Regions from separate parts of the Homo sapiens genome. Here all the other regions are linked to region 1. The links come from fine-mapping of genetic effects on gene expression. A gene starts in region 1. Each other region holds a variant in brackets. All regions are shown on one strand. Distances are from middle to middle. Region 1 holds the start of CLEC9A (C-type lectin domain containing 9A). Region 2 holds the start of CLEC7A (C-type lectin domain containing 7A). Region 3 overlaps CLEC9A (C-type lectin domain containing 9A).

The links.
Region 2: its variant is fine-mapped to the expression of CLEC9A in whole blood (TOPMed, PIP above 0.99).
Region 3: its variant is fine-mapped to the expression of CLEC9A in whole blood (TOPMed, PIP 0.96).

What each region holds. Positions count from the first base shown.
Region 1 is chr12:10,024,976-10,036,234 of GRCh38, forward strand. It overlaps CLEC9A (C-type lectin domain containing 9A), which reads left to right and starts at 5,707. Exons shown (of 9, transcript NM_207345.4): 1 at 5,707-5,997. It overlaps LOC102724020 (a long non-coding RNA gene), which reads right to left and starts at 5,648. Exons shown (of 4, transcript NR_169587.1): 1 at 5,568-5,648; 2 at 2,824-2,999.
Region 2 is chr12:10,124,295-10,135,553 of GRCh38, forward strand. CLEC7A (C-type lectin domain containing 7A) reads right to left here and starts at 5,905. Exons shown (of 6, transcript NM_197947.3): 1 at 5,686-5,905; 2 at 3,453-3,551; 3 at 2,277-2,414; 4 at 1,003-1,154. The coding sequence starts at 5,788. It overlaps LOC105369655 (a long non-coding RNA gene), which reads left to right. Exons shown (of 4, transcript XR_007063208.1): 2 at 6,787-6,946; 3 at 7,391-7,498; 4 at 8,992-9,320. RefSeq lists an enhancer at 9,444-10,264. The variant ACTGT/A (reference allele first, on the strand shown) is at 5,853.
Region 3 is chr12:10,052,478-10,063,736 of GRCh38, forward strand. CLEC9A (C-type lectin domain containing 9A) reads left to right here. Exons shown (of 9, transcript NM_207345.4): 4 at 153-301; 5 at 1,794-1,874; 6 at 8,650-8,796; 7 at 10,578-10,729. The coding sequence starts at 211. Among named protein-coding and RNA genes, the nearest start is that of CLEC9A, 27 kb to the left of the region's middle. The variant C/A (reference allele first, on the strand shown) is at 5,965.

The DNA.
Region 1 (11,259 bases):
CAATTTTCTTGCCTTATGTATTGCTATCTCCCCCCATAGCCCCTGTTGCTGGTCTGATGTTGACTGATTTGAAGCCACTAGGCATGCCATCCCTACTTGCCTGCCTCATTCATAAACATTTCTTCTTTAAAAACCACTTTATTGGGTATAATTGACATGTAAAAGCTGTACATACGTAATATATGCAACTTAATATTTGTAGATAAGTATACACACATGAATAAACCATCACCACAATGTATACCATAAACATAGGCATTATCTTGAAAAGTCCTCCCACCCTCTTTATTGTTAATATTTTTGTGTGATAAAAACACAACGTAAGATTTACACTCTTAGAAAATTCTAAATATACAATATAGTATTGTTGTCTATAGGCACTACGCTGTACAGTAGATCTGTAGGACTTATTCATCTTGTGTAACTGAACTTTCTACCCTTTGGCTAATACCTCCTCATTTCCCTCTCCTGTAACCCCTGGCAACCACCATTCTACTATCTGCTTCTATGAGTTTGGTTATTTGAAGTTCCTCATATAAATGGTATCATGCAGCATTTGTCCTTCTGTATCTGGCTTGTTTCACTTAGCATAACATCCTCCGTATTTATTCATGTTGCTGCAATGGCAGGATTTCTTTCTTTTTTAAGGCTAAATAATATTCCATGGCATGTACCATATGACCTAGCAATCCCATGACTGGGTATATATCCAAAGAAATTGAAATTGCAATTTCAAAGAGATGCCTGAACTCCTATGTTTATTGCAGCACTGTACACAATAGCCAACACACGAAAGCAACCTCAATGTCCATTGACATGTGAATAGAATAAAAATAAAATGTGGCATATTCATTTTATTAATTTAAACTATTTGTTTCTAAGAACTTTATATTTTAGGTTGTTAGTTAGAAATGAACAAAATAAACGCTTTTATTGCTCTATGAAAGCTTGATTCCTCAGATCTAGGCCCCCATTTGTGGTATATTGCACATTTGAATTTATCATAGGAGCAAAAGAAAGTTGTATATGTTGCAGGCTATGTTTACATGACTATGTTACAGAATTAACATTTATCTTTATTTCTTTCCTATATTCCTGTTAGAAGACAATAGGATTATAATTCAGTTGACAGAAATGTAGCTTATGGCAGTCCTTAAGTCTGTGTCTTAACTTTGGGAATTTTGGAGGCTGGTGAAGTATAAGTATAGCTTTTCCTCTGGCTCTTTTGCTAGAAGAGAAAGCAGACTTTAAGAGAAAATTATTGCAGCACTATTTACAATAGCAAAACTTTGGAACCAACCCAAATGTCCACCAATGGTAGACTGGGTAAAGAAAATGTGGCACATATACACCATGGAATACTATGCAGCCATAAAAAAGAATAAGTTCATGTCCTTTGCAGGGACATGGACGAAGCTGGAAACTATCATTCTCAGCAAACTAACACAGGAACTGAAAAGCAAACACTGCATATTCTCACTCATAAGTGGGAGTTGAACAATGAGAATACATGGACACAGGGAGGGGAACATCACACACTGGGGCCTGTTGAGGGGATGAGGGGCAAGGGGAGGGAGAGCATTAGGACAAATACCTAATGCATGCGGGGCTTAAAACCTAGATGACAGGTTGATAGGTGCAGCAAACCACCATGGCACATGTATACCTATGTAACAAACCTGCAGGTTCTGCACATGTATCCCAGGACTTAAAGTAAATAAAAAATTTAAAAAGAGAAAATTATAGATTCGCATAGCTGATATGGTTTGGCTGTGTCCCCATCCAAATCTCATCTTGAATTATAGCTCCCAGAATCTCCACGTGTCATGGGAAGGACCTGGTGAGAGGTAATAGAATCATGGGGGCGAGTTTTTTCTGTGCTGTTCTCCTGATAGTGAATAAGTCTCATGAGTTCTGATGGTTTTACAAAGGAGAGTTCCCCTGCCACCATGCAAGACATGACTTTGCTTCTCCTTTGCCTTCCACCATGATTGTGAGGCCTCCCCAGCCATGTGGAACTGTGAGTCAATTAAACCTCTTTCCTTTATAAATTATCCAGTCTCGGGTATGTCTTTCTAAGCAGCATGAGAACAGACTAATACAGTAGACAAAAAAAAAACCTACATTTTTAATCATAAAAGGAATGGAAATTACCAAAAAATGTCTCCTAAGGGATATAAGGGCATGCTGGTTATAAGAATTCTAACAGGAATTCCAACTCATTTTTTAAAATGAGTAATTTTTAATTTTCTAGTAATGCATATTTCAGTACATGCATTTTCCCAGTATTTGAAATTGCATAGACCTCACTTAATAATAGACCAGAACTTATAAATTTAGTCTTAGGTAGTTTGTAAGAGATGTAAACTAGTATCATACCAGGTATTATAATCCTGGCAAAAAAATAAGCTTACTGTATTCCAATCACTTTCATTATAGATCATCTGTATGAGGTTACCTCTAGGTAATCAGAGGGCTAAATAGGAAATTCATTCCATGGAAGCAAATCATTGTGGTTAAGGGCACAGATCATGCAATAAAACTGCCTGCCTGCCTGCCTGCCTGCCTTCCCTCCCTCCCTCCCTCCCTTCCTCCTTCCTTCTTTCCTTCCGTTTCTTTCTGTCCCTCTCTCCCTGTCTCCTCTCTCTCCCTTTCTCTTTTTCCCCATCTCGCTGTCTCTCTCTGTCTCTCTTTCTCTCTCTCTCTCTCCCCCGCTCTCTCTCCTTCTCTCCCTCTCTCTCTCTCCTCTTTCCCTCTCTCTATCTCGGATCACTTGGTAAACACCAAGACAAAAACCTGCCAAAAGAAAAAGGAATAGCTCACCACAATTTTCTAAGAACTTGACACACATCAGGGAAGAGATTGTGCCATCTTATAACAGTCACAATTTCCTAAGACTCTGACACAGTCAGAGGATTATGCCATCTTCCCACACTCACAGTTGGATATGCCATGTGATAACCCCAGCCAGGAAGGAGACAACAGTGAGACACAAGGTTCTGTAGAAGACAAAAGCAGAACATAAGCCAAATCGTCCATGATGCTGCCTCCTGGAGTTGACTTGACCATGATGAAATGTAACCGAAATTGACAATATTCCATGACACCACCACGGCTTCTGTGCTGTGGATGGACATTGAAAAAAAATGCACAAGTTAGGAAGTTGTTTTCTTATCCTGCCTTTTCCTCTGCCTCCAAACTCTATTAAATCCAATATAAATAAAAATCTCATTAAGTGTTTACTTTTTAAAGCTTCTTCCCCGGATCAGTCGTACATTCTCTTCTTTCAGCATACTTTTCATTTACCTAGACTGAAAATTTGATTCCCTAATGAAACGTGCTCTCCTAAAACTTTCCAAAGTATTGCATTTGATTGTCAGAATTGTCAGAAGGCAGGTGAGTTGTTGTGTAAACCTTAACTTTATACAATAACAATGTATCCACCTTAGAACAATTATAAATTCAAGATACGATGTATTTTTTAAATTATTCTCTTTTTTGGTTTATATTTTATTTTCTTCTTCTTGTACACTATTATTTCCCTAGATTCTCTTTTCCAGAATGATGTGTTAGATTTGGAATTCAATAATGAAAGACAAAAATAAGTATTTAAATGAGGAAGTATATATTTCCTCTGTCTCTTTTTGTTATCCTATTCAATATGCAAAACCAGGCTGTGTGATCTAAATCAAGTTTCTTATCCTCTAAAGCCTAGGTTTCATATCTAAAAATTAGGAATGATATTACCAGACTTGTAAGGCTGTTGTTTGCACACAAAGGAAGAATTAAATGTGATCATTTATAGACTCGCCTGAGAGCATAGTATTTTATTATTAGGTACTCAATAATTTTTTTAACTTACCCTTACCTTCTCACCTCACCTCTGTAAATTTTAACAAAAGACAGGAGACCTGCATATTTACCAATTCCTTATTCTCTATATTGAGTAAGGTAGAAATTTTAGAGATCCTCTAAAAATTTTTATCCTTGCTGTCTTGCCATGTTATGGATTCCTGAATTATTTTATATTACTGGTCTTTTGCTCCATTGCCACCTTTCAGGACAGGGCTTACATCCATTATCTGAAAAGCCAGACGTATATATTAATTATCTTGATTTCTTTATATTAAATATGGACCATTTAATGCAATGTTTGAGTTAGTCTTACAAATATCTCATTTCCTCCCATGTTCACAATAGCCAAAATATGAAAACAAGCTAAATGTTCATTTCATTGATGAACAAGTGGATAAAGAAAACATAGTGTGTGTGTGTGTGTGTGTGTATATATATATATATATATATATATATATATATATATATATATATACAAGAAAAAACTTTCCACAAGAACCTCCATGTCCTCATTTAGAATTTAATTTAATTTTTTACCTCACACACCTCTTTTTTTTTTTTTTTACTTCCACTTGACACCTTTCTGGGGTAATAGGTATGTTGTACCTGAATTCCACTCTCCCTCAAAATATCTGTCTCAAATTTGTATATACATTAGTAGGTATCAATCAGGAAGGTCTCCCTCAACCCATTCAATAGGCCCTGCCACAAAATTTGAAAAGTTTAAAAAATTCAGAGCCCTGCTTATGTACATGGGTGTACATTTTTGCAGACAAAAATCCCCTGTGCCCTACCTACTCAGCAATCTTCCCCCTTCCTATCAATCTTCCTCTTCCCCTGAATCATTGGTCACAACTGATCTCTTTGTTTTCTTTGTCTTGGTTTTTCTCGAATGTCATATAGCTAGGATAATATGATAGCTTTTCAAACCGGCTTCTTTCACGTAGTAATATGCATTTAAGATTCCTCCATGTTTTTCATAGTTTGACAACATTTCATTTTGTTGTCGAATGATACTCCATTGCATGAATGTACCACAGTTTGTTTATCCACTCATCTTTTGAAAGACATCATAATTACTTCTAATGTCTGGCAATTATGAATAAAGCTCCTGTGAAAATGTGTGTGCCAGTTTTTGTGTGTGTTGGGAGCAAGCCCCCCAAAATCCGGCCATAAACTGGCCCCAAAACTGGCCATAAACAAAATCTCTGCAGCACTGTGACATGTTCATGATGGCCCTAACACCCATGCTGGAAGGTGGTGGGTTTACGGGAATGAGGGCAAGGAGCAGCTGGCCCGCCCAGGGTGGAAAACCACTTAAAGACATTCTTAAGCCACAAACAATAGCATGAGCAATTTATGCCTTAAGGGCATGTTCCCGCTGCAGTTAACTAGCCCAACCTATTTCTTTAATTCGGCCCATCCCTTTGTTTCCCATAAGGGATACTTTCAGTTAACCTAATATCTACAGAAACCATGCTAATGACTGGCTTGCTGCTAATAAATACGTGGGTAAATCTCTGTTCGGGGCTCTCGGCTGTGAAGGCTGTGAGACCCCTCATTTCCCACTTCACACCTCTATATTTCTGTGTGTGTCTTTAATTCCTCTAGCGCCTCTGGGTTAGGGTCTCCCAGACCGAGCTGGTCTCAGCAGTGTGTACAGGTTTTCCACTTTCTATGGTTCCTAGATTGTCTGTTAATACTATACTTACCTCTATAAGAAACTGTCAAGTTTACCGGGCCGCGAGGGTGCAGGCTGCGCAGATGGTGTGGTCCTGCGCCCCGAGGGCCGCAGCAGCTCATCCGGCAGCTCCCACCCCAACAACCTGGAAGGGGGCGGGACTTCCGTTTGTACCCGGCTGTGGCAATCTGTGGTGAAGTTGAAATGCTTTTCTGCTAGACTGGCAACATGTTTTGATTCTTCTCAAATAACTCGCAAGCTCTTGTGAAGCACAACGGCCTACCTTGTCCTGAAGAAAACATACTCTAAGGCCCACAGATGATTAAACCCAGCCATTTATGTGACAATAGCATTTTTATTTTTCTTATCAAGATCTGGGTATTTGATCCACACAATGGTAAAGATTCCCATGTTAGCCAAGATCTAAATGATTCAAACTGATGATACTCTCTGCAGAAGAGGTAAGAACCACTGGCAGTAGGGTGGAAGGTATGTCATTACAGATGATGCTGACAGAGAAGGTCATCTGAACCTACTTTATAAGAAAGGCATGATTAAAGGAGAAAGGGGAAAGGGCATTCTAGGTTAGGAAAGATTCTGAAGAAATGTAAAATAATATGAAGGTGTGAGCTGATATATTTAAGAAATAATGAATGATATGTGGGAGTATGTATCATCTGCAGAGATGGATGAGGGAAGATGCAAGTGGAGGGGAAGGCTGGAGCCGCTGGTGGAAAGACGTTAAGTGTATTTCAATGGCCTGATACTGCAGGCAGTAGACAGCCTCTGTAAATCAGGTAGCTTCCTTACTCTTGCTCCTACTGATCCCTCAGTCTAAAATGCCCTCTGCACTTTCTCTTTAGAGATAGAGAGGGAAAGGGAGTCAAACACGAAATCTCCAGGAGGCCATCCCTGGTTATTTCTTACTCCTCTGTTGATTTCCTTTAATCTGTGAAGTGTCTTCTAACTCGTGGCCTGAGGCTTTAGTGACTCTGCTGACTCATTGTCTGGTGCTACTGATTGTGCTAATGGTCTTCGATATTGTGTCCAGTGCCCCCCACCATTTTGGGAAGAAATTGGCTTTAGTTTTTACTCAGATTGAAATTTTATTTAGAAACGGGAGTAGCAAGACCAGGTGCAGTTAGTTACACCTGTAATCCCAGCATTTTGGAAGGCCAAGGTGGGAGGATTGCTTGAAGCCAGGAGGTTGAGAAATGGGAGTAGCAACCAATGTCGGTAGAAGAAACAGCATATAATAACAGGATGTGATAAATCTCAAGAAAAGTTACGCACAAATTACTATGGCAGCAGGAACGAGTGAGCCGCCCGATGCTGTCAGTGAAGGCTCTGAGGATTGGGAAGGATTGGCAGGGTTACAGGAGACAAACAAATGCTACAAATAACATTCCAAGTAGAAGGGGAAGTGAGGGTAGGGAAAGGAATGCAGACAAGGCTGAGCCTTGTTTGGAGAGCTAAGTTCAGTGTTGCAGATGCTCAATGTCATACCTTAGGAGGGAATTGCAAATTAAAACAACAATGAGAAACCACTGTATACTATTTGAATGACTAAAATCCAAAATACTCACAACATCCAATGCTGGCAAGGATGTGGAGCAACAGGAGCATTCATTCACCGCTGGTGAGAGGTAAAAAGGCATAGCCACTTTGGAAGGCAGTGTGGCAGTTTCTTACAGAGCTAAGTATAATATTAACATACAATCTAGCAACCATAGACGCAGGACAAGAACTCGGGCAAAGACGCCACAGCCACACAGGTTTCTGAACAGAAAATCAACATCCCAAAGATCCCGTAACATAATCTATGCTCAATCTCCATCTGTATATTAAAATCCATCCACCTACCTCCTTAGGGATTTCTTTTTTTTTTTTTTTTTTTGAGACGGAGTCTCGCTTTGTCACCCAGGCTGGACTGCAGTGGCGCAATCTCGGCTCACTGCAATCTCCGCCTCCCGGGTTCACGCCATTCTTCCGCCTCAGCCTCTCGAGTAGCTGGGACTAAAGGCACCCGCCACCAAGCCTGGCTAATTTTTTTTTATTTTTAGTAGAGATGGGGTTTCACCGTGTTAGCCAGGATGGTCTCGATCTCCTAACCTCGTGATCCGCCCGCTTCGGCCTCCCAACGAGCTGGGATTACAGGTGTGAGCCACCGCGCCCGGCCAATAGGGATTTCAAGCTTGTAATTTTCTTTCTTTGGTTCGCTCTGGCACTATCAATTTCTTTTCATCTCCACTTGTTCACTCACCTTCACCTCCCAACATGGTATAATATCTCCTATGTTAAAAACAAGCAAAAGCCATCTTTTGTTTACCATGCCCCCATACACACGATTCTAATTTTCTTATATTTCTTCTTAACATTTCTCTAATTTTCTTGACAACAAAAATGTTCAAAAATCTCTCTGTGCTTACTGTTTCATCCTACTTTTCCTTTATGTTAATTAGGCTTTTTCCTTCACTATTTCTATGAAAACACTCCAGTCAAAGTCACCATTAACCTCCACATGAACACATCTAATGGCTAGTTCTCAGAATTCATCTCACGCACCAGATAAGCATTCAAAAAAAAAAAAGATTATTCCCTTTTCATAACATACATTCTTCTCTAAAATACAGTGTTCCCTAGGACACCGTTCTCTTCAATTTCCTTTTGCTTCATTCACAACCCAATCCTCCCTCAGATTTGGATTCCTCCTTAAATTAATTTAAAATGTTGTTGTGTCCCAGAATTCAGTTCTTGGTCCTCTTGTTTTTTTTTTAATTTATCCTGGGATGAACTAAATTGGATAGTACCCATAGAATGGCCAGAATGGGAATTAATCTCTTGTAACCTCATGACTTAATAGCCATACATTGATAATGTCCAAAATTATATTTCCATACCATTGCTTGATCTCCAGAACCACATATCTGACTGGATTCTTGGCATATTGACTTTGATATATTTTAGGATTTTTTAACTTAACACATCAAAAAATGAGTGACTCTTCCCAATGAGTTTCTCCATCTCGATAAATGAATATTCCATACCTACGGTTCCTCTGCCAAAAACTTGGAATCACCTTTGACTTTTCTTGCTGCTCTCACATGAATTAAACATGTCAGAAAATATTGTTCACCTTGGAAAATATGGAAGCACAGTTATTAATTATGGAAGTATTGTTGATTGAGAATACCTTAAAAGAAATGCTGAGTTAACATGATAGGAGGATTCATTCTCACTCTGTTCTTTAACAGTCTTTCCATTCTCACATCTTATGCCTGTTTCAGAGGACACTTTTAAAGTGGGGCCTAAATTGGATAGTACCCAGAGAATGGCCAGAATGACAATTAATTCAGAATTATTTACAAAAAAAGAAATAGGGAAAAATGAAGATGAAAGCCAGAGTTATCAAAGGCATAAGGGAAACAAAAATAAACTAAAAGCAGAAGAAAAATAAATGGCCACAAGGAGGAGACAGAGGATGGATATAGGATGGAATTTATTTTTAAATGTATTAATATAGTCACCCAATTAGGTGAGTATGCCTGACCAGGATAATAAAATGTCTGAATTAAAATGAAGCACTGTGAAGACAGGCTGATTGATTCAAATCCTGGATCAACACTTACTTGCCCTGTGGCTTTTGGCAAGTTACTGAGCCTCTGTGCTTTATTTTTCTTAGCAGTAAATTTGTCATAAGTTTAATGCCTACCACAAATGTAACTGATAAAAGCATATAGAAAGAGCAATAAATGGCAGCTGTCATAGTGGAAGTAAGTTTGGATTATTCTGGATTATCTTAAAAAAAGGAAGAAAGCTGGGACATTGCCCAAGCACTGACAGTGAAGCTTAAACAAACCAATTCTCATGAGCCCAACCAGGGTCTGCCTCCAGCCTGTCTGGAAGAACTCAATTATATCACTTTTCTTCATTTGTAGCACTTTTCATGATGTAAAATTATGTTGATCTTTGCTTTCGATGTAAAATTATATTGGTCTTTGCTTTCTATGTTTCTTTACTATCTGTGCTCCCCACCCTTTACTATAATACAAGCTCATTGCTTGTATGATTCATTAACGATTAGTCCCCAGAAAATAGAAACATGCCTGGGACTTCCACAGTGATCAATAAACATATGAAATGGGAAAAGTTCTCTTGTCCCCCTAGCAGAGTGTGCAATGGAGGTATGGCTCGCTTCTTCAGTGCCCCGCTACTCAGACCTCTAGGGGAGGGGCAGGCTGTGGGGCTCCGGCCCCACGGTAGTGTCTAGGAGTAAATGTTTGTATCTGAAGCCCCAGTGGGCGTGTGTTACAGGGTGCTCTTTTAGTTTAGCCGTCCATAGGTGGCTTGTGTTAGTCAGCTCAATTAGACCCCTACCTTATAGCAAGGACAGAGGCTTTCTGCATCCCAGGGTTCTTACCTTGGTGTACTGGAAGAATCAGATCACACGTGGGCTTGGAGAATGAGTGCAAGGTTTTAGTGAAAGGAAGTAGCTCTCAGCGGATGGTGGAGCCAAAAGGGTGATGGTTTTCCCCTGGAGTCTGGCCACTCAGTGGCCCAGGCTCTCCTCTGATTGTCCCGGCCAAACTCTGCCTTGTTTCACCAGTTGGTGGCCTGCCGATATGCTCTTGACGTCCAGCCACTTATGTCTTGTTCCATTGATGACTACTCTCAATGTCCAGCCACTTATGTGTCTGCCTGCTAGGGTCTTGGGGGTTTTATAGGCACAGGATGGGGACATGCGGGCCAGGATGGTCTTGGGAAATGCAACATCTGGGCATGAAGGCAGGAGTGCCTGTCCTCATCCAGGTCGGTGGGCAAAGGCCCGGGGGTGGAGCCCTCGCCAGGGATCCGCCTTTCTCTATCCAGCACTTCTCTGCCCCACTTCTGTATCACATATGTTCAAATAAATGATTAATTAATTGCCCTTGCCATGAAATTTTGTAGTAATTTTAAAGGAAAGTGCAATGGCAAATATACTTAACATACTATGAATCCTCAATTCAAATATACTTGATCAGACCACTTTCCCTCAATCAATCGCACTATTTCCCATAATCGCACTGAGTAGATTAGATGATAGTACATTTTTGTTGTTGTTATTGTTTTGTTTTTGAGACAGGGTCTGGCTCTGTCACCCAGGCTGGACTGCAGTGGCAAGATCCACGATCTCAGCTCATTGCAACCTCTGCCTCTTGGGCTCAGGTGATCCTGCCACCTCAGCCTCCCACGCAATGGAACTACAGGCGTGCGCCACCACACCCAGCTAATTTTTTAAACCATGGGTTTCACCATGTTGCACAAGGTGATCTCAAGCTCCCGGGCTCAAGCAATCCTCCCACCTTAGCCTCCAAAAGTATTGGGATTACAGGAGTTAGCCACCATGCCCGGTGCCTGGTACTGCTTTTTACAAGAAGTATACTTATTCAAACTCCCAGTTTTTATTAAGATGTTTGCCCTGCCTGATAAACATTGCCTTCTTCTTTTTCTTCTTAGGCAATATTTACCTTTCCTTCAAATACCAATGCAAATCTTAATTAATCCAACTGATTATCATTCATTCTTATTTAATTTTTACTTCCATGTTTGGTATGCAAATGCCTGATAAACTTTGTGATAGGACTGCAGTCTGACACATTTTTCCCTTCATTTTCACTACTGTTTGTCACAAATGTTCTGCCATAATTTTGGTCTGATAGTTATTAGTTGTTTGGTGTATTAAC
Region 2 (11,259 bases), 99 kb after region 1:
AAAACAAAATAAGAATAGTGAAAGTAGGTGTAGAAGTTATAGACTGGTTTAGATTTATAACATAGAATTTTTCCTATTAACCCCTTATCTTACCTCATTGAAGCTCTACCCTTCATTCATGATGTGTTATAAGTGCCACTTTTTCTGAAAACTTCTTAGGAACACGGGGATCTCTTTAAACTCCTATAGAATTTATTGCTAATGCCAGATATTTAACTTTTAATAGCTGCTGAGTTGCTTTTTTTTTACTTAAAAGATTATATGTGTCCTGTGATAGCAGGGTTATGTTTTAACCCTCTTTGCCTTTCCCAGTATCTTGCAAAGAGTAAATAATTTCTAAACATATATTATCATTGTTGCCATTTTTCTTGATAATTATGATGACAAGGAGAAGAATTTTCTACTTTACTTCCACCATATTTAAAAATTGAAATACAAACTCACAAAAATGGGTAGTGTCCTGATTATTGTAGTCATGCATACATGGAGTATGTTTGAAAGGATTTGTTTTAAGGCGAAACACAGTTTTTTAAATTAGTTAAAAATAAAAGCATATACTATGCACTTTATGTGCTTAAGGCATGCTATGATTATAATTATAGAGATATTAAAAATGAATTTTGGCCAAGTATGGTGGCTTACACCTGTAATCCCAACACTGGGAGATCGAGGTAGGCAGATCGCTTGTGCCCAGGATTTTGAGACCAGCCCAGATGATATGGAGAAACCTCGTCTCTATGAAAAATACAAAAAAACATTAGACGAGTGTGGTGGTGCACCCTGTAGTCCTACCTACTCAGGAAGCTGAGGTGGGAGGATCACTTGAGCCTGGGATGTCGCGGCTTCACTGCACTCTAGCTTGGGCAACAGAGTGAGACTCTGCCTCAAAAAAAAAAAAAAAAAAAGACTTCATTTTAGGAAAAATTGTCATTACCTGGAATCTCCCTCTATCTTCCTTCAGGATACACACCACAGATAATCATAACAGAAGTCTACACTTACCAATTCATTTGAGCTGTCTATCTTTAGGAGATTAGAGCCCAGTTGCCAGCATTGTCTTTTACTTCCATCCCAGGAATTTAGTGACATGCTGAATAGATAACAGCTCTTCTCATATATAATCCAATTAGGAGGACAAGGGCTGGAAAGAACCCCTGGAAATAAAAGATTAGTACCATGAGGTTCATAGCATACCAATTCACTCTTTTAGTGTGAACACCATTCATCTTAAGGACACTTATGAAATAACCAATTAGTTGCCATTTTTATATTTCATTGTCAATTCGAACTACAGGGATATGATTTTACAGATGAGAATACATTAAAATCTTCCTATTCATTTAAAATTTAAAAACAAACTAGCTATAAATAGTATTTTAGGCAGCCAACCATCCTTTTTTTCTTCACTTGTCTTCTATTCCTTCTAATTCAGCTCAAAACTACCTTTCTCCTTAATAACTCCTTAAAATAAGTCCACTCACAATCAGTCATTGAGGTACACAGCAATTTCATATTGCTACTTATTTTATGATGTAAGATCTACTTCATAATGTGACTTTCCAAGTGAGAAAAGTATAGGCCAATTATTCATATTATACACTATCTCTGTTATATATTATTAGCTACTTAATAAAAATAGTGAGAAGGTATGGGTCCAGAGATGAAAAATTGAACTGAAAACATTAAGTCATAGTCAATTATGATGCAATTAGAAGTAAAAGTCAAGTGTGTATAGAATTGTAATTAAGTAAATGAAATTGTATGATTAAACAAATTTGATGAGTTTTCAGGGACATGTGTATTAGGTCTACCTCTTTTGTATATTTTTAATATAGCTTCCTTATTCTTGGCAACATTTTCCCTTCTTTCCTTTCTCCCTGTCATTCTTCCTTTCTAATGTCATATTTCCTATTCTAACTGTATCGCATTTAAAATGTCAATTCTGTAAGGGGAGAGAACACTTTTCTTTTATTTGTATCAAATTATATGATCTCCTGTAGATCTAAGCACATAGCCAGTGATAAATCAGTTACTGATTTTAAAAATTAATAAAGTCCAATTTAGAACTGTCCAGCCAACTGCATAGGGTACTTATAATTTCACCTTATTGTATATATGACAGGGATACATTACACTAAGGTAATACTAATATGTGTATTTGCCTTAAATTTACAATCATTGAATCTAAGTGTTTTTCTTTACACCCCTGCCCCAGGCTTCAGCACCAAGAATTAACCCTCTTGAGTCAAGATTCCGTCCTTTAACTATGCCCTTGCCTGTGGTTTTGACAGCTTTGGTAGGAGTCACACTGTCTTCTAAAGATGATTGTGTGGGTTGACTGTGGTTCTCTTTATTTCTTGATAGAAAGTAGCCATTCTCCAATGTGTTGCTTCCTGAATTGGATCTCCAAATAGCTTCACATACCAACAATAATAATAGTGACAGAAAAAATGTCATTCTGCTGTGTTTGAAAATTAAAATCCCAAAACCCAAATGTTATTGGAATAAAAGAATACATTATTGATTAATGATAAATAGATGATATATTGCTGTGGAGAGATAAAGACGATTGATAGAATAGATGAAAAGAAATACATAACTTTTATAAAGGAGGTATAGTAAAAAAAAAAAAAGAAAAGAAAAAAGAAGGTGGAGAAGAAGAAATAGAATGAGGGAGGCAGCAAGAGGCAAATGTCATAGAGTCAATTGGACCCATGACAGATTTGAAATAGCAACATCTTTCACCTTTCTTCTGTTATTTAAAAATGAGAGATCCTTGAGAAACTGCCCAGTACCTATAACATAGAACGCACTCAATAAACATTTGACTAATTAAGGAATGTCATGAAGACTCTCTGAAGGTGACTGACAACAGATTGCATGTGATATAAAATGTAAAAAAAATATTAATCCATTACAAAATATCGACTTAAGACCAAGTGCCTCAGGAAATTTCTGGTGTATTCAAAGGTGTTTATATTAAAGATCGGAAATAATTTCCTTAAATAATGTGAATCATAAAAATAGCTTAATGTCCATTTAGTGAATTTATTTCATTAGGAAGACAGCACCATATTGTACTTTCTTCTTCAGCTCCGCTTGTTTTCTTCATTAATTTATCCTTTGAATTCCACAGCTTTGAAACCAGCTATGTAAGGGAGGTAGGAGAGCAATGTAGTTAAGAGTATGAGTTTTTTAGACAGATCACCCAAATTTCTAATCATGGTCCCACCACTAACTAGCTTATAACCCTGGAAAGGTAAAATAACCTCTCAGTCTCTCACACCCTTTATAAGTGAAATGGGCATTAACAGCACCAACCCAATACAGATAAAACCAGATTATATACAAATTAAAGTAGATTATGCATGTCAAGCCCTTAAAAGAGTGCCTGGCACATAATAATTGCTTACTAAATTGTCTGTTGTTAATCTCCTCCACCAAATACTCACCCATGGTACCCAGGACCACAGCTATCACCAGTATTACCAAGCATAGGATTCCCAAAATTACAGCAATGAGGCGCCAAGGAGGAGATGCAGCACACGATCCTGAGGAGCCAGAGGGGGCAGAAATGGAATAAAGAAAGAGAATGACGGATGGTGGGGCAGTTTAATTCTACAGTTCATCAAAAATCTGGCCTTGCACGGTGGCTCACACCTGTAATCCCAGAAGGGAGACTGAGGTAGGAGGATTGCTTGAGGCCAGAAGCTCAAGACCAGCCTGGGCAACACAGGGAGACCCTGTCCCTACCAAAAAAAAAAAAGAAAAACAAAGAAAGAAAAAAAATTTAATTAGCTGGGCATTGTGGTGAGCTCCCGTAGTCCCAGCTACTCTGGAGGCTGTGGCAGGAGGATCACTTGAGCCTAGGAATTCCAGAGCAGCATAGGCAAAAAAGTGATACCCTGTTAAAACACACACACACACACACACACACACACACACACACACACCACCAACAACAACAACAAAAAATACTGGCAAATTTTTAAGTGAATTATTAATCACTGCCTAGGTTACCTGGTCACCTAGGATTTGCTGTGCTTCTCCACCAGTAAGGATACCTTCTTCTTCAATTGCTGGAATTGTAATTTCGGCACATTGGCTTGATAACTGTATGCTCCTAATTTCAGTTCCACATTGACATCTACAGGTCTTGACATTAGTAGGATCCCTGAAATCCCACTGATTCTTAGAGGAAATAGCTTAATGTTGGGGAGATAGCACTGATTACTAAGGGTAATTTTCCCTTTTCATATGTTTGTTGCATGACCCTGGGCAAATTACTCCCTTTGTTGTTTTTTATTCCTCTTTGTGAAACTGGGGTAATAATATCTCAAAGGATTATTGCGGGAATTAAACGAGCTAACACATATAAAAGCACCTTGTTTAGAGACTGCTAGCACATGATAGGTGTGTTGTTGCAGGATACCGTTTGCCTACACATATGCATAAACATGCGCATGTCTCCCTACCTCTTGCCTCATCCACTTTTTCCACGCTTCCTCAATAGGTTGCCCAAGAAAAGAATTACATCAGTGCTGAGAGGAAAATATTTGTGCAGTGTGAATAACCAGAAAGCAGAAGAAAGCAAACTCTGGTGTCAAAACCGACAAATGATCTCTCTCTCTCAAAGATAATAGGGAACTAATTTTGTATGAACATTGCCATAACCAGAATGTATTTCTGCTTTCCACTGTGACTAAGCTGTCAGGACATTTCATAGAATTGTCACATAGGAGAATCGTAGAGTAGGCTAAATCACCCATTCTATGAATACAGAGATCCTCCAATGCCCTTCTTTCTATTTCATTTCATTTACACTTTGTTTAAGACTCATGTCCTGCTGGTGGGATGTTTTTATCTACCATATGTTCATATATTTTCCATCACTGGTATACCAATAATTGTTTTTTGTTTAAAAACAATTTAAATTAATCTCTTACCACAAAAAAAAAATGTTGTTCATATATATACTTCTTTAAGTTTCCTGGCCTCCATTCGATAATCTAGCCTTTCTATCAAACAAGCAACAAGTCACTCATACAGAAATCCTTTATCTTTGTGTATTATCCCACTTATTACCAATTCCTCACTGATGAAATGTCTATATCTATAGAAAAGAGAAATTCTATTTTCTGCCATCAGACATAATTAATTTAAACACTAATAATTGGTCACTGAATAATTTTCATGAAAAAAGGTTTAGGGTGCATTCAATTTATCTTCAGTGACATCTGAAGCCTTTAAAAGTATATCCATAAAAATATACACATCACGAGGCTCTCAAATTTTCTCCCCTTATATCTTTTTGTTTTGTTTTTATTTTTATTTTTTTTCAGAGATGGAGTCTTGCTCTGCCACCCAGGCTGGAGTGCATTGGCATGATCTTGGCTCACTGCAACCTCCACCTCCCAGGTTCAAGTGATTCTCCTGCCTCAGCCTCCCAAGTACCTGGAACTACAGGCGTGCACCACCATGCCCGGCTAATTTTTGTATTTTTAGTAGAGACAGAGTTTCACCACGTTAGCCAAGCTGGCCTCGAACTCCTGACCTCAGTCAATCCACCCGCCTCGGCCTCCCAAAGTGCTGGGATTACAGGTGTGAGCCACCATGCCTAGCCTCCCCTTATATCTTTTCAAACGGGAGAGCTAAAGGCACACATTAGAAAAAACATATATATACCTTTCTCTGAAACAACAGCTATCCTGGTATTGCTTTGAGAGTCGAAGTGTAATTGAGTATATCCATCTTCATCCAAATTTTCTAAATCAGGATGATATTCCATTGTTCTTGAGAGCCCCTGAATAGATATAGCATTTGGGAGCTCTTTTCTTTCTGCTCCTGAGATG[ACTGT/A]CTGTGGACAAAAGAGAATCTCTGAGTCAAATCATGTGGGCTAGGTACTTACCGGAGTTTAACAAATTAAGCTTAAGTAGTTCAACCAGATATTCAAGAGCAGGAAATGAAACTATGCTGTGGTAATTTTCCATTTGTACCTTTAGATCCTGTTTCTGAGACTGCTGACTCAGGAAAACTAAAAGGCAGCATAGCAGATGAGTCTTTGTTTCAGACCAAATGTAAGAAAAATGCATACATTAATGTCTTATGCTGCCTTCATTACTCTCACAACTAAGTCTGACATTAATTAATTTAACCGATGCAAACTATTTCAGTTTTGGTGCTCCAAGTTTACCATAACTTTGTTCATGTATTTATTCATGTATTTTTTAAATTACATAAACAGGTACTGGATGCCCACCTTTTCAATTGGTAGGAGCTTACAATACAAGGAAAAATGATACCTATGAAGAAACTCATTGCTTAATAAAGGAAATATATAGATAGGTAAATGAGGGATGGCATGAGGAGATGCATTGTTGTAACAACAGACAGAGAAAACAAATCTCTTTGGGAATTATCAGATATTAACACAAAATAACATTTATTGAACAATTACTATGAGCTAAGTACCACATGTTGTACATATTTTCTTGTTCAATCTCACTTTTCCAAGTCTATATAGTAGGCATTATTATTTCTATTTTCAAATGAAAAAATGAGACAGAAAATTTAGCCTCTTTCTCAGGTTTAAGAAGCTAATTTTAAAAATTTAGAGCAAGGAATCAAATCAAAGCTGACTCTTGCTGCAAAACTCGTGGTCTTTTCTGTTACGCTACACTGCCTCTTTCATCATTCCATACACTTATATTGCAAGGAACAGCTTATGGAAGGTGTTGGGACTGAAATATTATGTTAGATGTTTGATTTTTTTTCCCTCTCTTCCAGTTTCCATAGTAATGATCAAATCAAAGAAATATAGAAAACACCTAACATTGCTGGAAACTGAAGAGGTGTTCAACTCATTTATCCGACCTTGAAGCCAGTAGAGTGCAGGAGACATCTGAGTGTTGTCAAGGATCAACAAATCTGGATACTAGTTAATGTGGTGAGGACAGGTTTTATTCAGTAATACTATTGCAACAGGAACCAGTGCAGCATTAACTGAACTCAACTTCCCCAAAAGTAAAGCTGATGACATTTTAAAGTGGAGTTTGCTAAGGAAAAGATACTGAGTGGTGTTAAGGAAAGTTAATGTGACTAGACTCTCTGGATTTGTTAATTGGCCCTTATCCAGAGGACAGAGAAACTTTGCCTATCTATATGACAGAAGGACATGGTGATAGTTGAAGTGAAGCACCCAGCTAAGTTGGTCCTTATGCTGCATCTGAAAGAAAGAGCAAGATTTATCTCCCTGAATGTTTGCATTTCAAAGAAACAGCTCCCAAGTCCTTGAAGAAACAGTTCTGTGTGGTAGATTTGCTTCTCAAAGGGCAGAGAAAGAATTTAACTGTAAGATTTATTTTTCTTTTCTTTCTTTTTTTTTTTTTAGACGAAATTTCGCTCTTGTTGCCCAGGCTGGTGTGCAAATGGCACGATCTCGGCTCACCACAACCTCCGCCTCCCGGGTTCAAGCGATTCTCCTGCCTCAGCCTCCTGAGTAAGCTGGGATTACAGGCATGTGCCACCACGCCAGGCTAATTTTGTATTTTTAGTAGAGACAGCATTTCTCCATGTTGGTCAGGCTGGTCTTGAACCCCTGACCTCTGGTGATCCGCCTGCCTCGGCCTCCCAAAGTGCTGGGATTACAGGCGTGAGCCACTGCACCTGGCCTAACTGTAAGATTTCTAAAGTAACTGCTCTAAAAGGAATTCAGGAGCCTATCTGTTACCAAGTTTTTTGTTGTTGTTGTTGTTTTGAGACAGAGTCTCGCTCTGTTGCCCACGCTGGAGTGCAGTGGCGCGATTTCGGCTCACTGCAAGCTCTGCCTCCTGGGTTCACGCCATTCTCCTGCCTCAGCCTCCCAAGTAGCTGGGACTACAGGCGCCCGCCACCATGCCTGGCTAATTTTTTGTATTTTTAGTAGAGACAGGGTTTCATCGTGTTAACCAGAATGGTCTCGATCTCCTGACCTCGTGATCCGCCCGCCTCGGCCTCCCAAGGTGCTGGGATTACACGCATGAGCCACCACACCTGGCCTGTTAACAAGTTTTAACTGGAACAAAAAGTAAATTCTCCTAGCAGCATTGGGCTTCCTCAGGCTGGCCTTTTAAGTAGTGCTGAATCATCCTATGGACCTTGCCTTAGGCTACTAGAAGGCGTGCTAGAGTTTGCCAAGTCTCTAGTGCAGAGATTTGGGAGGAGTTGTTATATGATGAGGGCTCTGCAGTTCTGACAGTCTAACACCTATCAAAATGGAAGAGAGCTCAAGAGAGTACATAAATGAGCTTCCCGCCTTACTTAAGCTGCCACAAAAGTTTTACTAAGTTTTTGTAGACATGTTGCAAAGTGGTAATGTGGATCTTAATCTCAACATTCATCAGTGTTTCAGTCCTATAATGCAGTGCTTGGAAAGCAGCGTATGAGGTTCAGGACATGCAACCCCAAAATATGGATTCTTGGCATTTGAGAAAACAGCAGAATCAGGAAATTCACTCTCACACCTTTCCCCGTCTTTCTGCCCTGAAGCAGATCATAAGACCCTTATTTTAGAAGTATTGTTTCCTAGAGGAAAGAAACTTCCTTATCTTTGAAGATACAGAGATGCCAAGAAGAATCTGAACAAATTAGTCTTGCTAAGCTCCCTCCAGTTTATTAGCATTAGATCATACCCTCCTTGTCCAACGTAGGGGAGAAAAAGTAGTATCTTTTCCTTGCCCATCACCAGGTTCGTGACTGAGACCCCTATAACAAAAGACAGATTAACAAAACAAAAGCATGTAAATGTTATACGACAAGAGAGCCTTCTGAAATGAAGACGCAGGGAAAACTGAGTATTTCTACGGACAGTTATGCAGAAGTATGACTGGAGAACAAAAGGGTATAATCTAATGGTAATAAGCTGAGTAGAACTTAACAAGGCCTGTTTGTTCAGGTAACTTCTATTAAATAAATTTGGATGCTATTCTCTTGTTGATCTATGTTTTATTGTAGATGCCGTGAACCTAGCAATGAGTGAGGAAAAGGAATCTTTCACCCCTACAAAGGGATACCATGGAATTTCTCAAACAGTGAATACATTGGCTCCAGGAAAAAGGGTCGACCTCTTAAATAGAAATAGAGAACTAGAGAACAATAATGAGGGGAGTACCTTGCAGTCAGTAATAAGAAGCTGTCTTTACTATCAAATCAGACCTCCAGTGGGAGAGTTTTTCCCTATAGTGACTTTGACTGTCACCCTGTGTTTAATCACAATCCTATGAAAACAGTTAACTCTCTAAGTGGTCAAAGAAATTTTTCAATAAACATAAACTTTAGTCTAATTCTCATTATTCTCCTTTTTTGTCTCTTTGTCTAAAATAAAGCAATTAAACATTAATTATGCAAATCATTGACAAACTAGAAAAACAATACCCTTCGTATTTCAAGACAGTGGGAGAGATAGGCTGGGTATTCAGAGAAAAATACCCCTCATTAAATGTTAATGCAAGAAACAGGTGGAAGGCCGAGCATGGTGGCTCAGGCCTGTAATTCCTACACTTTGGGAGGCTGAGGCAGGTGGATCACCTGAGGTCAGCAGTTTGAGATCAGTCTGGCAAACATGATGGAACCCCATCTCTACTAAAAATATAAAAAATTAGCTGGGTGGGGTGGCAGGTGCCTTTAATCCCAGCTATTTAGGAGGCTGAGACAGGAGAATCACTTGAACCCAGGAGGTGGAAGTTGTAGTGAGCCAAGATCGTGCCACTGCACCCCAACCTGGGCAACAACAGTGAAACTCCATCTAAAAAAAAAAAAAAAAAAAAAGGAAAGAAACAGGTGGAAACAAACCAACCTAACAAAAGAAAAGACAAAAAACAAACCAGTTATCTAACTTACATTTTCAGTGAAGTTTGTTGAAAACTTTCATCTATAAAACAAGTGGGTCATCCAAGAAAAATGAGCAATCTGGCCGGGTGCAATGGCTCATGCCTGTAATCCCAGCACTTTGGGAGGCAGAGACAGGCAGATCACCTGAGGTCAGGAGTTCGAGACCAGCCTGACAAACATGGAGAAACCTCGTCTCTACTAAAAATACAAAATTAGCCAGGCGTGGAGGCGCATGCCTGTAATCTCAGCCACTTGGGAGGCTGAGGCAGGAGAATTGCTTGAACCCAGGAGGCAGAGGCTTCAGTGAGCCAAGAGTAAGCCAAGATCGTGCCACTGCACTCCAGCCTGGGCAACAAGAGCAAAAACTCTGTCAAAAAAAAAAAAAAAGAAAAGAAAGAAAGAGAAAAAAGAAAAATGAGCAATCTGAGAAGAGTTCTTAGAAGTGGAAAACACATTTTATAAACTAAAATTGTAATTAATGAAACCCAGAGGTAGATTGAATATTACATCAATAAAATAGCTGAAAGAACCGAATTCATAATAGCTGAGTCTCAGGAATGGAAAACAAAACATTGTATGTTCTCACTTATAAGTGAGAGCTAAGCTATGAAAATACAAAGACATAGGAATGATACAATGGATTTTGGGGACTTGGAGGGAAGGGCGGGAGGTGGGTGAGAGATAAAAGATTACACATTGGGTACAGTGTACACTGCTCAGGTGATGGGTGCAACAAAAATATAAGAAATCACCACTAAAAAACTTATCCATGTAACCAAACACCACCTGCTCCCCAAAACCTGTTAAAATAAAAAATAAAAGAATAGCTGAGTCAGTCTGCTCACTCACTGCTATATACATTAAGTAGTAGTGTTTACTCTCAGAATTAAACCTCAAAAAATAGCATTCTTTTCAAACAAATATCTATTTTGTATATGTCTAATGTGACTTTCTGGAAAATTCATACAAATAAATGAAGAGAAATAAGTAAACATGTGAATATATAGAAATAAATGGATACATGAATTAAATAGAAAAGATTATGGCTGGGCACGGTGGCTCATGCCTGTAATCTCAGAACTTTGGGAGGTCAAGGCAGGTGGTTGGCTTGAGTCCAGGAGTTCGAGACTAGCCTGGCAACATGGCAAAACTCCATCTCTACAAAAAAAAAAATACAAAAAATTAGCCAGCTATGGTGGTACATGCCTGTGGTTCAAAGTACTTGGGAGGCTGAGGTGAGAGGGTTTCTTTGAGCCCCGGAGGCAGAGGTTGCAGTGAGCCAAGCTGGCGCCACTGCACTCCAGCCTGGGTAACAGAGCAAGACTCTGTCTCAAAAAAATAATAAAAATAACAAAGAAAACAAGATTATTAAAACCAAACTAAGCATTAAAC
Region 3 (11,259 bases), 28 kb after region 1:
TCACCAAGTTGTGTTTTGGCTTAGACTTCATAAACTTCCACTTTCTGAATGAAGGTGCATCTATTCTACTCCTTAAACACAAACATATTTTCCCACTACTGTGAAAATGTAACCAATTTCAGTTCTTACACCAACCTGCTCCAAACCACAAGAGGAGTTACTTGTTCCAGCCTCCTGTGTGGACTGCTTTCCTATCAAAGCACCTTAGACATGCACGAGGAAGAAATATACACCTCTCTTCAGTGGGATAGCCCAGCACCAGACACTTACCAGAAATGTCTGTCTTCCAACAAATGTTCAGGTAACCAGTTCTAACTATTTTGTGTGAGACTTTAGAGTTCATGTTTTTTTTTTTTTTCTGCTCTATCATGAGGCCAAGATGTTTATTCTAATCCGAGATAATCTACCTAAGGGTACTGTAATGTCCGTGAAATGCTAATGAAGTGGAGAAGGATTAAGTAACGGTGAAAAATAAAGAGAGCAATACACGTGATAAACGTGCGGAACTATTTTTTCCTCTGCCTCTCTAGAAAAGAAAAGCAATACCTAGATTTGGGAAATACGTGAAAAAAATACAACTTCAATTAATTGAACTCCTACTAAAACATTCTGCAAATTATCTGATAAATACTAAGAAATAAAAAAGAGAAAACATAGGTTGAAAAACTGGCAAGATCTCATTGGCCTAGAGTTGTTGGCTATAGTGATTAGTTCTGTCTGTATCGTTTAATATCTATGTTAATTCCTGTCTGCTGGTGTAACCAATCACACAGACTTAGGGGATTAACAGAACGTAAATTTATTATCTTAGGGCTCTAGATGTCACAAGCTGAAATGGATTTCAATGGGCTGAAACCAAGGTGTTGGCAGGGATCGAGTGGAAGACTCTATCCCTTGTCTTTTCTGGTTTCTAGAGCTGGATTTATTGCTTTCCTTGGCTCATGGACCCTTCTTCTGTCTTGAAAGCCAACAACATAACCTCTTTAAATGTTTCTCAGCCTCCATTATCATGCCATGCTCTGTCCCTCCAATATCCTACCTCTCATTTAAAAGGGATCCAGATAATTCAGGCTAATCTTCCCATCCCAAATCCTTAACTTAATGACTTCTTCAAAGTCCCTTTTCCACATAAGGTAACTCACAAGTCCCAGGAATTATGACACTGGCATGTTAGGCAGGGGCATTTCTCTGCCTATCACAATATTCAAAGATAAATTTTAACTATTTTTCTCTGATTAGTGTTTTGAATACAAAAAATCACATATTCCTTTTTTTTTTCCTCTCTGCAGGGTTGTAAAGTTACCTTGGAAAACTTGTTCGTCTTCCAAAAAATGTATATTTAAAAGTATATATTTAAAATGTGTATCTTTCTTTTCTTTAATCATGTTCAAGTAACACTGAAGAGATGGGGAGATGTGAGACAGCATTTTTTATCTCAAAACATAAAGCCAGCATTTGGCTTGGGGGAATCTCTAAAAGATTGTTGGAAAAGAATACATATAATTAGTTTGTTTAAGGTGTGACATCAAAGATAAGGATAACAGAAGTATACTATTAAATCTACTTAATTTGGCAGTATCCATATCACATATATTCCAAGTTATGAGTTGTATTTCAGTGCATTTGAGCAAAGGTTCTCTTTTTCCTTTTCTTTTACACATCCCAGGCCCCAACAACTCTCAGTAGAAATGCCAATGTTAATTCCTTCTTTTACTCAATCTCAATCTATCCTTGCCCCGTCTTTTTTATCTGCTTTCTCTAACTCGGTATCATTTTTCCTATTCTGTGGTTAGGAGCATGCTGTCTTGTGATGGTGATTTCATGTGTTTTCTGCATGGGATTATTAACAGCATCCATTTTCTTGGGCGTCAAGTGTAAGTACTAAAAGATATTTTCAAAATATGTATATCGTTATATATAAAACTTCATAATTTATAAATGGATGGAAAATCAATTCATATGTGAATGCACATAAATGATATAAAATAATGGCCTCAAATTTCAATCATTTGATAGAACTCTCTGAGCACTTGGATGCCACTGATAACTTTCAATGATCTATTGCATGTTTTTTAACTCAAATCATGTGCTATAGGTCTCTGGGAGAAACAATGAAAATAATAACATATTCTGATTCCATTTGTGAGTCATGTTAACATGCTAAAGCATGCAATTTGAAAGATTTCACATTCTGCTTTTCTGTTTCTAATATACATTTAAATTAAATTTGACTTTTAAAGATTATTTATATTAGGCAAGTTTCAATTTAAAATGTTTAATGCAAACCTGAGAGCTTCGTTCGACCACATTTAACCACATTGCTTTTTAGTCCAAATAGAAGACATACTTTTATGTTTGGCAAGTGAAATTTTTATAAAATATAATAATTACAGAGCTTCAGATTCCAGAAAAAGAACAATGAACCTCTAACATCACTCATGCTACCACTAAGAAAAATGTAGATGTTTCTTTCTTATATGCCTTTGCAAATCATATCTCTATCTAAAAGACATCAGCTGGAGAGGAAGAATTATGAACTCTGAGAATAAGGAAGGGAAAGGTTCAGATTCGCATTCACAAAGTATAGGAAGTTTGACCTTGCTTAGGTAATGTCATGAGCTTCATTTTCTGCTGGTTTTTAGAGGAACGTTTTAAGAATTGCCAAGAGCTTAATCAGTAATTGTTACTTCGTCTGTCTCCTCAAATAAAGTTTCACAGCTTAACAGAAATGTTAGAACTTCAAGACAGCTTTCTTTTTCTCTATCTACTCTCTTTGGGTCTTATTAAAAAATACATATTTTAGACAAATGTGAGTTCGCTTTTTAAGAAGCACACATATTAAATACCTGTGGAAACAATTTATATTTAAAAGACCAGTTCAGTCAATTAACATCTAATAATCCACCTTCTTCTGTAAAAATTGAGGACTTTAAATGACACATTGCCAAACTTCATTGTAACTCTACAATAGAAGAATCCATATTTAACTTGCATTGCAAATATCAAAAAATATTCTTTAAATGTTAATTCTATATAATGAATTTCAATGTTATTTTACAAATGATAATGATTTGGGGTAATAAGATTTTAAAACTTAACATATAAAATCATTTCCAATTACAAACAAAATTAACTGAAGATGCAACATCTTGAAGCACTGTTGTCAAGTGAATGGGATATATAATTTGGTTTTTATATAAACATAAATCTATAGTCTCCAATTGCCAAATATTTTGTCTACTATATAGACAAAAATCATATACTACATAATAAGGATGATTATAAAAGTACACTTTAGGCCAGGCGTGGTGGCTCATGCCTGTAATCCCAGCACTTTGGGAGGCCGAGGTGGGCGGATTGCCTGAGGTCAGGAGTTCAAGACCAGTCTGGCCAACATGGTGAAACATCATCTCTACTAAAAATGCAAAAAAATTAGCCGGGAGTGGTGGGGTGCGCCTGTAATCCTAGCTACTCCGGAGGCTGAGGAAGGGGAATTGCTTGAACCAGGGAGGTGGAGGTTGCAGTGAGCCAAGATTGTACCACTGCACTCCAGCCTGGGTGACAGAGTGAGACTCTGTCTCAAAAAAAAAAAAAAAAAAAAAAAAAAGATACACTCTACATTTTCCATGTTGTCAAAAGATTTGCTGTTCAGTGTATACCTAAGTGTCTTCTCCATCTAGTAAACGAAATCTTATATGAAACCTATAAATCATGTTCCTAAGATAGTGAATTATTTTAAACTGTATTAACTGTGACCCAGCAGTACTACTTTTGGAAATTGTACCTATAGATAAACCTGCAATTTAACAATAGGGGAAAAGCCTCAAATACCCACCACATTGATAAGAGACCATGTTAATAAATAATGGTACATCATCTATACAATAGAATACCTTGAAGCAAGAACAACAAAAGAAAGAAGAAACACTTCTGTATGTAAAGTGCAAAAAAGCAGCATTTAAAACCTGGCTGATGAGATCAATTGTACCCCAAACATCAGCATCATGTACCTGAGTAACAAACCTGCACATGTACCCCCTGAATCTAAATAAAAGCTGAAATTATTTTTTAAATGTATATGCTATGTTACAATTTGATTAAGAATGAACATTTTCTTGAATTTAAACAAACAATGGAAGGTTATATAAGAAATACTAAAAGTGAGGGCAAGAGAAGTGAGATAAATAGTGACGATGAGGAGAAAAATATATTTCAATGTTTACTTTTCGGATTTTTTTAAATGTTTTAATCCTATGAATGTAGTATATATTTAAAAAATGTTAACTCCCCAAACACAAATTGTATGAAGAAAATGTTACTTTAATGAGGATAAAAGAAACATAGCTAGAAAACCATGTGCCTAAGACTTCCAGTAATTTCTAGAAAATTCTTACAAATAAAAGTTTTTGCTTTTTAAATTTTGTCTTACGAGCTAAAAATATATACTTACAAAACTTAAATATCACTGTACAGGCGTAAAGTATATTTTCCTTTAGCTTTTGTTCTAGTGACTATTAATTTTTATTGTTGTTGTTTTTAAATTTATAATTTGCCTAGGTCTTCTTATACATTTTTAACACTTAAGGCTTTAAAAAAATAAAACCAGTTACCATAATAAAACTGTTGTGTTAAGCAATAAGCAGCTTCTTCATGTGAAACATTCTGTTCAATAACTAATTACTTGTCCCAGCTAGTTACAGATTATGTTATAGCCAGTAGGCTTTGAGTTACAAAAGTCATGTTTATTTTTTAATAAATATTCCATTTTGATTATGTTCCATTTTAAATTAAAATGTTACATCCAATTTTCTTTATGAAAACTTGCATTGCAAGACAAATATGAAAACATATTTAAATTATATACATATATATTTTTTAAATAGGACCATGTGTCTGACAAAAAGTAGTAAATGAAAACTATAACCTTTTATTTAAAAGTATCATAACATGAACATAATGAAAGTGCTAATTACAAATTGCTCATATATATAACTAAAGGCCAGTACCTGACAATAGAAGGACTGGTAAAATTAATTATGTCATATTTATATAAAAGAACACAATGCCATTATTTAAAGAATTCTTCTAGAACCATTGTTATTGTTTTGGGAATATGGTTATGCAATATTTTCTCACGAAAGAAGCAGATTTCTAAAAAGACATTTATATAAAAATATGGTTTTCTAAAGGTTGTATATAAAATACTTTTCTATATACATACATAGAAAAGAGTTTCAATAGATATAAACCAAATACTAATGGCCATTATTTGAGTGGTAGTTCTCAAAGTAAGTAGACTTAACTTTAATTTTCTTCCTACTATTTCACATTTTCTAATTTTTCTACCACATTATTTATGCCATTAATTTTTGTATTAAAAAATCTATAGTTCAAAATATTTTCTAACAAATCAGCTTTTTAATTTGTTTTTACTGTTCATTTTCTTAATTCATCAATTAGGTATAATGTATGATATCATATAACAAATAATTTTATTTGGGGGACGTTAAAAGTATTTTGTTTTTTTTCCCCAGGTAATTATATTGTTTTGTCTTTATTCCTCATTGCAGATTTATTACAACTTCAACCCCAATAAAGGTGCTATATTTTGCTTCCCATTTAGGGTAAAACTCTGAAGAGAAGTCTCATTTCCCTTTCTCCAGTTTTATTACAGTTTCATATAGTATACGCTGTTCAGACAGTAATAAACAACAGCTTCTATGATATAGCTAATCTAAAAAGGTATCTAAATATAAAATTTTAGAATTATATGTTGAATCTAAGAAGAAAATTATTATTTTTCAAAGTCTAAACATGCCAGATTATTAATAGGATAAAAATCAGAGCATCACTGTTCTACACTTGACTCTGGTTAGATCCATCATTTTGCTAGAAAGAGAGAAAAAGATCCAAGCAGCTGACAGCCTGGGTTTTTGTTAACTATCCACCGATGGACAGGGCATA[C/A]ACATCTGCTTTCTCTAGTCCATGGCTTTTGATTTCTGGCATTTTCTTCTCAGCAGCAATGTTGATAAGTAAAACAGATCAGAATATGTAGATATGTAAATGTTTTCTTTTTCTTTTCTTGCTCTGTTGCCCAGGCCGGAGTGCGGAGTGCAGAGTGCAGGGTTATGATCTCACCTCACTGCAACCTCTGCCTTCTGGGTTCAAGTGCCTCTCCTGTCTCAGCTTCCTGAGTAGCTGGGATTACATGCGCACACCACCACACCCAGCTAATTTTTGTATTCTTAGTAGAGACAAGGCTTTGCCATGTTGGCCATGGTGGTCTCGAACTCCTGACCTCAAGTGAGCCACCCCCCTCAGCCTCCCAAAGTGCTGGGAGTACAGGCGAGAGCCACCACGCCCAGCCTGTCTTGGTCAGATGATTTTTCTGTGTGATCGTGGTTACCTCCGTTTTGTGGTTAAAAATATGAAAATAATTTTACAGATTTGCCCATTTGTTCTCCTCTTTTGTTGTTCTATTTCTCTCTAAAAGAGGATTTTTAATCCTAAAGGTCTGGCTGACACGCATAGGTGTTTTTATTTGTTTTTTTTAATTCACTAATTAATTTTTCTTGATGCCATTCTCTCTATACAATATGTCTATTCAATAACCACAATCTAATAATGATTAACATATCATAAACTTATTTTAAACCAATTATATAACTGAGTAGAATCAATTTGCCTGATTTCAAAACCTGTATGAATTAAAGCTAGGTGTATTAGTCGACAAAAAGACAGATATAAAATACAATAAAGAATCCAGAAACAGACTCATACAAATATACCCAAATGATTTTGTCAGCAGTGCAAATCAATTGAAAGAAGGAGGATAGCCTTTTCAACAAATGGTGCTGGAGAAATTAGACATCCATAGGAAAGAAAAAAAGAAAAAGAAAATAAGCCTAAGTCTTCAACCTTACACAAAAATTAAAAGTTAACTCAAAATAGACCACAGTCTTAAAAGTAGAGCATAAAACTGTCAAACTTTCAGAAAACATAGGACAAAATCTTCAGAATCTAAAGGTAGGCAAATAATTCTTAGACTTACATTAAAAAATGGTTAATGAAAGGAAAAGCTGGTAAGTTGGATGGACCTCATCAAAATAAAACATACATACTCTGCAAAAGACACTAGGAAGAGGGTAAAAAGACTTGTTACAGGCCAGGTGTGGTGGCTCATGCCTATAATCCCAGCACTTTGGGATTCCTTGAGCCCAGGAGTTCAAGACCATCCTGAGCAAGAAGGTGAGACCCCATCTCTACAAAAATAAATAAGTAAATAAAAGCCAAGTTACAGACTGGGAATAAATAGTTGTAAATCAATATCTGACAAAGGATTAGAACCTAGAATGTACAAAGAACTCTCTAGTTAGTAAAAAACTAGACCATCCAACGAGAAAATGGCAAAAAGACATGAAAAGACGTTTCACCAGAGAGAATATACAGATGTCAAATAAGCACAAGAAAAGATGTTCAATGTCATTAGCCATTAAGGAAATGTAAATTAAAACTACAGTGAGATATTACTACATACATAATCAGCATGGCTAAAATAACAATAAGTGACAACATCAAATGCTTGTCAAGCTGCAGAGAAAGCGGATCACTCACTCATTCCTGGTGGAAATGTAATATGCTGTAGCCACTCTGGAAAATAGCGTAGCAGTTTCTTAAAAATCTAAACTTCACACTTCCTTAAAACACAACAATTGCACTCTTGAGCGTATACCTCATAGAAATGAAAATTTATGTTCACACAAAAACCTGTACATGAGTGCTTATAGTAGCTCTATTTGTAATGACTAAAACCTGAAAACTACCTGGATGTCCTTCAGTGGATGAACAGTTAAACTAGTAGTGGTAATTCATATCATGGAATTCTACTCAACAATACAAAATAGGTGAACTATTTATTTAAACAACAATCTGCATGAGTCTCCAGAGGATTATTCTGAGTGAACAAAGCAAATAGCAAAAGGTTACATACTGTAAGATAGCATTTATATGTCATTTATGTGATAAAATAGAAAAGGAACACAAATTAGTGATTGCCAGGAGTGAACAAGGGGTGAAGGCAAGAGGGAAGTGGGTGTACTTATAAAAGGGCAAGGACAGATCCTGATGGTAGTGGAGGAGCCGAGTATCTTGATTGTATCAATGTCAATATCCTGGTTGTGCTATTGAACTAAATTTTGCATGTCTATGTACTGATATGGAACTGAGTTCAAATATGCATGTTAATGATAAAACAAAAGGTGCAAAACCATGTAAATATATTGTTACCATTTGTGTTAAGGGGAGAGAGCGAGTTTTATATTCATTTGCCTTCATTTGTAAAGTTTCTTTTTGTTTTATCTTATGTGTAATATTCAAAAGCTCCCAAATAATAAAATATAAATTGGTAAATCTGGTTGTTTGGGGGTAGTAAATCAAGCAAATTAAAAATGGGTGCAAAGAGACATTTTGTTCCACGTCTTTTGTAGTGTTTGATTCTTGTACAATGTAAATTTTAAGCAAAAACCTAAAATAATACAAATTCAAGTCTCAAAAATAATAGTAATTTGTACTTGTCTTTAGTCTGTGTTGAAGGATTATTTTGCTATAAAATGTCAGGATTTTATTAGGAATGATTGCTATCATGTGAAGTGTTGCAGGTGTCCACCATTGCGATGCAGCAGCAAGAAAAACTCATCCAACAAGAGAGGGCACTGCTAAACTTTACAGAATGGAAGAGAAGCTGTGCCCTTCAGATGAAATATTGCCAAGCCTTCATGCAAAACTCATTAAGTTCAGGTAATGGATAAAAATCAGTTTCCACTGTATACATCTAAATATATACACCAATACCTCAAAAGAAACAGTGACACACATTTTGTTCTCTGCAAAACTGTTAGGATTTTATAATAAGAGTGACATAATTTTGGTCACTCTTCAGTTCAATCTTATTTATAACATCCAATACTACGTGGAAACACTAGGGATCCAAAAGAATGCAACTAAAGGAAATGTACAGTCAAATGCCAAAGAGGTGTGTGTGCAATTAGTAGGTCAGATTAAAAAAATACATGCACAAAAAAAAATCGTTTTATCCAGCCATTCAAATTTGTAAGGATGTTTTAGTTCTAGCTCCAAATTTCCCAATATATTTAGTTTAGATATTGTTTTAGATTCAAGTTTAGATAGCTTTGAGCAAAAAAATTCATTTTGAAAATGAGAGTATTTACCACAAAATTCTTTTACGATGCAGGACCTAGCTCTTTTTTAAAATTCTATGAAGTTACTGCAGTTTAATCTTTTATATGCTTTACAAGCATTTTAAACCTAATGCAGAGTCTATTTCTACCTGTCATATAGTTTGCCATGTATTCTATGCTTGGCATTTCATAATGCTTGTACATATAGTTTAGAGAATTAACTTTCCTAGACTGGATACCATTTACATAATTGCCAATGAGAGAAGTCAAACATCAACCATAGTTCCTTCTGATTAAAATTTAATCGAGTGTTTGAAGGATCACTGTGTGCCCAACCATGTTTCTCTATGCAGCAGGCCATTGCAAACTCGGGTGAGGCCCACCTCTGAGCCATCAACCTTGAATAGAATAACAATATCCATTTTGGAGACGTACAAGTCCAACATGTTCTTCAACGCCACCAATACCATTGTCTACACTATTTATACTATAGCAATGTTCAGGATATTGGTTGGCAGGGATTTCAAACAAAAGATATTGAAGAGCTTTAAACAACTTAACATCTGGCCCATGGAAGCTACTGATGAATTATTTCTTGGCCTAAATACAGGGACTGTCTAGAAACCAGAGTTGTGGAAGTTTCAGTGTCTTTCCTTCTATAAACCTGTGCCAGAAACACTTGGTCAAATTCTTGGTCTTTGGTTCCCCTTTTACACATTTGACCATCCTTCTTTTGTGACTATATTCCATCTTAAAACAGGTTCCATAAAACTGATTAAACATTAAGGCTTACTTCTTAGTTGTATCAGAGTCCTAAACTAAGCATATTGTTCATTTATGTTCTTCTCCAATTTTCCTCACCTGCATGTTTTCAAATCACTCCTTAAGGCAGACTACTTGTTCTCTCCATTATCTATAAAATATTTCCTTGTTTAGCTCTCAGAATTTAAACATAAATTCAGGGCTTATTATTCAATCCATCCAATGGTCCAGTACATTTCTGGCTAAATTGGGGCAGTAAGACTAACAGACATGAAACAATAAGCAAACAAGTGAAGACAATAAATGATGTGAATTCAAAGAAAGGAAAGATTGATAAAACTGGAATAATCAGATTATTATAGAAGAGAAAAAATTTAGTTAAATATATCCCAAAATTAATTTCATATTTAAGTTAAAGGCCCATTGCAGATAGAAATTATTACATGAATCTTACTATATTGAGCCTCAGAGAAGCTGAAATTGGTAAGTGCTACATCATGTGGACCATTACGTTATGAGATTCAGCCTCACTGAGGGTGAGGCAAGGGGCTTTTTGGAGGGATATATGTTGTTAATATTTTACAATAAGATACTAAAGTAAAATGTTTATATTCAAAGCCCATAACAGCAGTCCTTGTCCAAACAATTGGATTCAGAACAGAGAAAGTTGTTACTATGTCTCTGAAATTTGGAGCATTTGGCACACCAGTCAAGAGAATTGTTTAAAGGAAGGTTCCACGCTGCTACAAATAGAGAGCAAAGAAGAAATGGTAAACACTGTTTTGTGGTCTCATGTTATTCTGAAAATATCATTTTACTTATTAAAAGAAATCCCTCATTCTCATAAGACAAAATTCCTTAATATTCTATAACAGCAGTATAATTGTAAAAATAAAGGTTTAAAAGAAACAAAGTTGGAATCTGTATTTTTTGTTTTCTTTTTAATGGGAAAACATAAAAACAGGATGGTTTTCTGAAATCGAGAAGAATATGTTTGTTCTATGTCCTTGGTTAATTAAAAAGAGGAGGGAATAAGGAGAATACTATTTTGTAGCATGATAATCCACTTCAAGATATACATATATTATAGTTGCAGATATGTTTTAAATGTATTATTTTCAATGCTGTAGGCAAATATAGTAACCTATAATAATCTTGTAATTATCAAGAAAAAACAGAAGTATAAAAACTGAAGTGGTGCCATGAAATAAATAGGTCTTGAAAAATACAAGTATCTGCTAAATGAAATGTTTAATTAGCATAAAACCTAGTTTACCAATATCTTAACAAGTGAATAGGC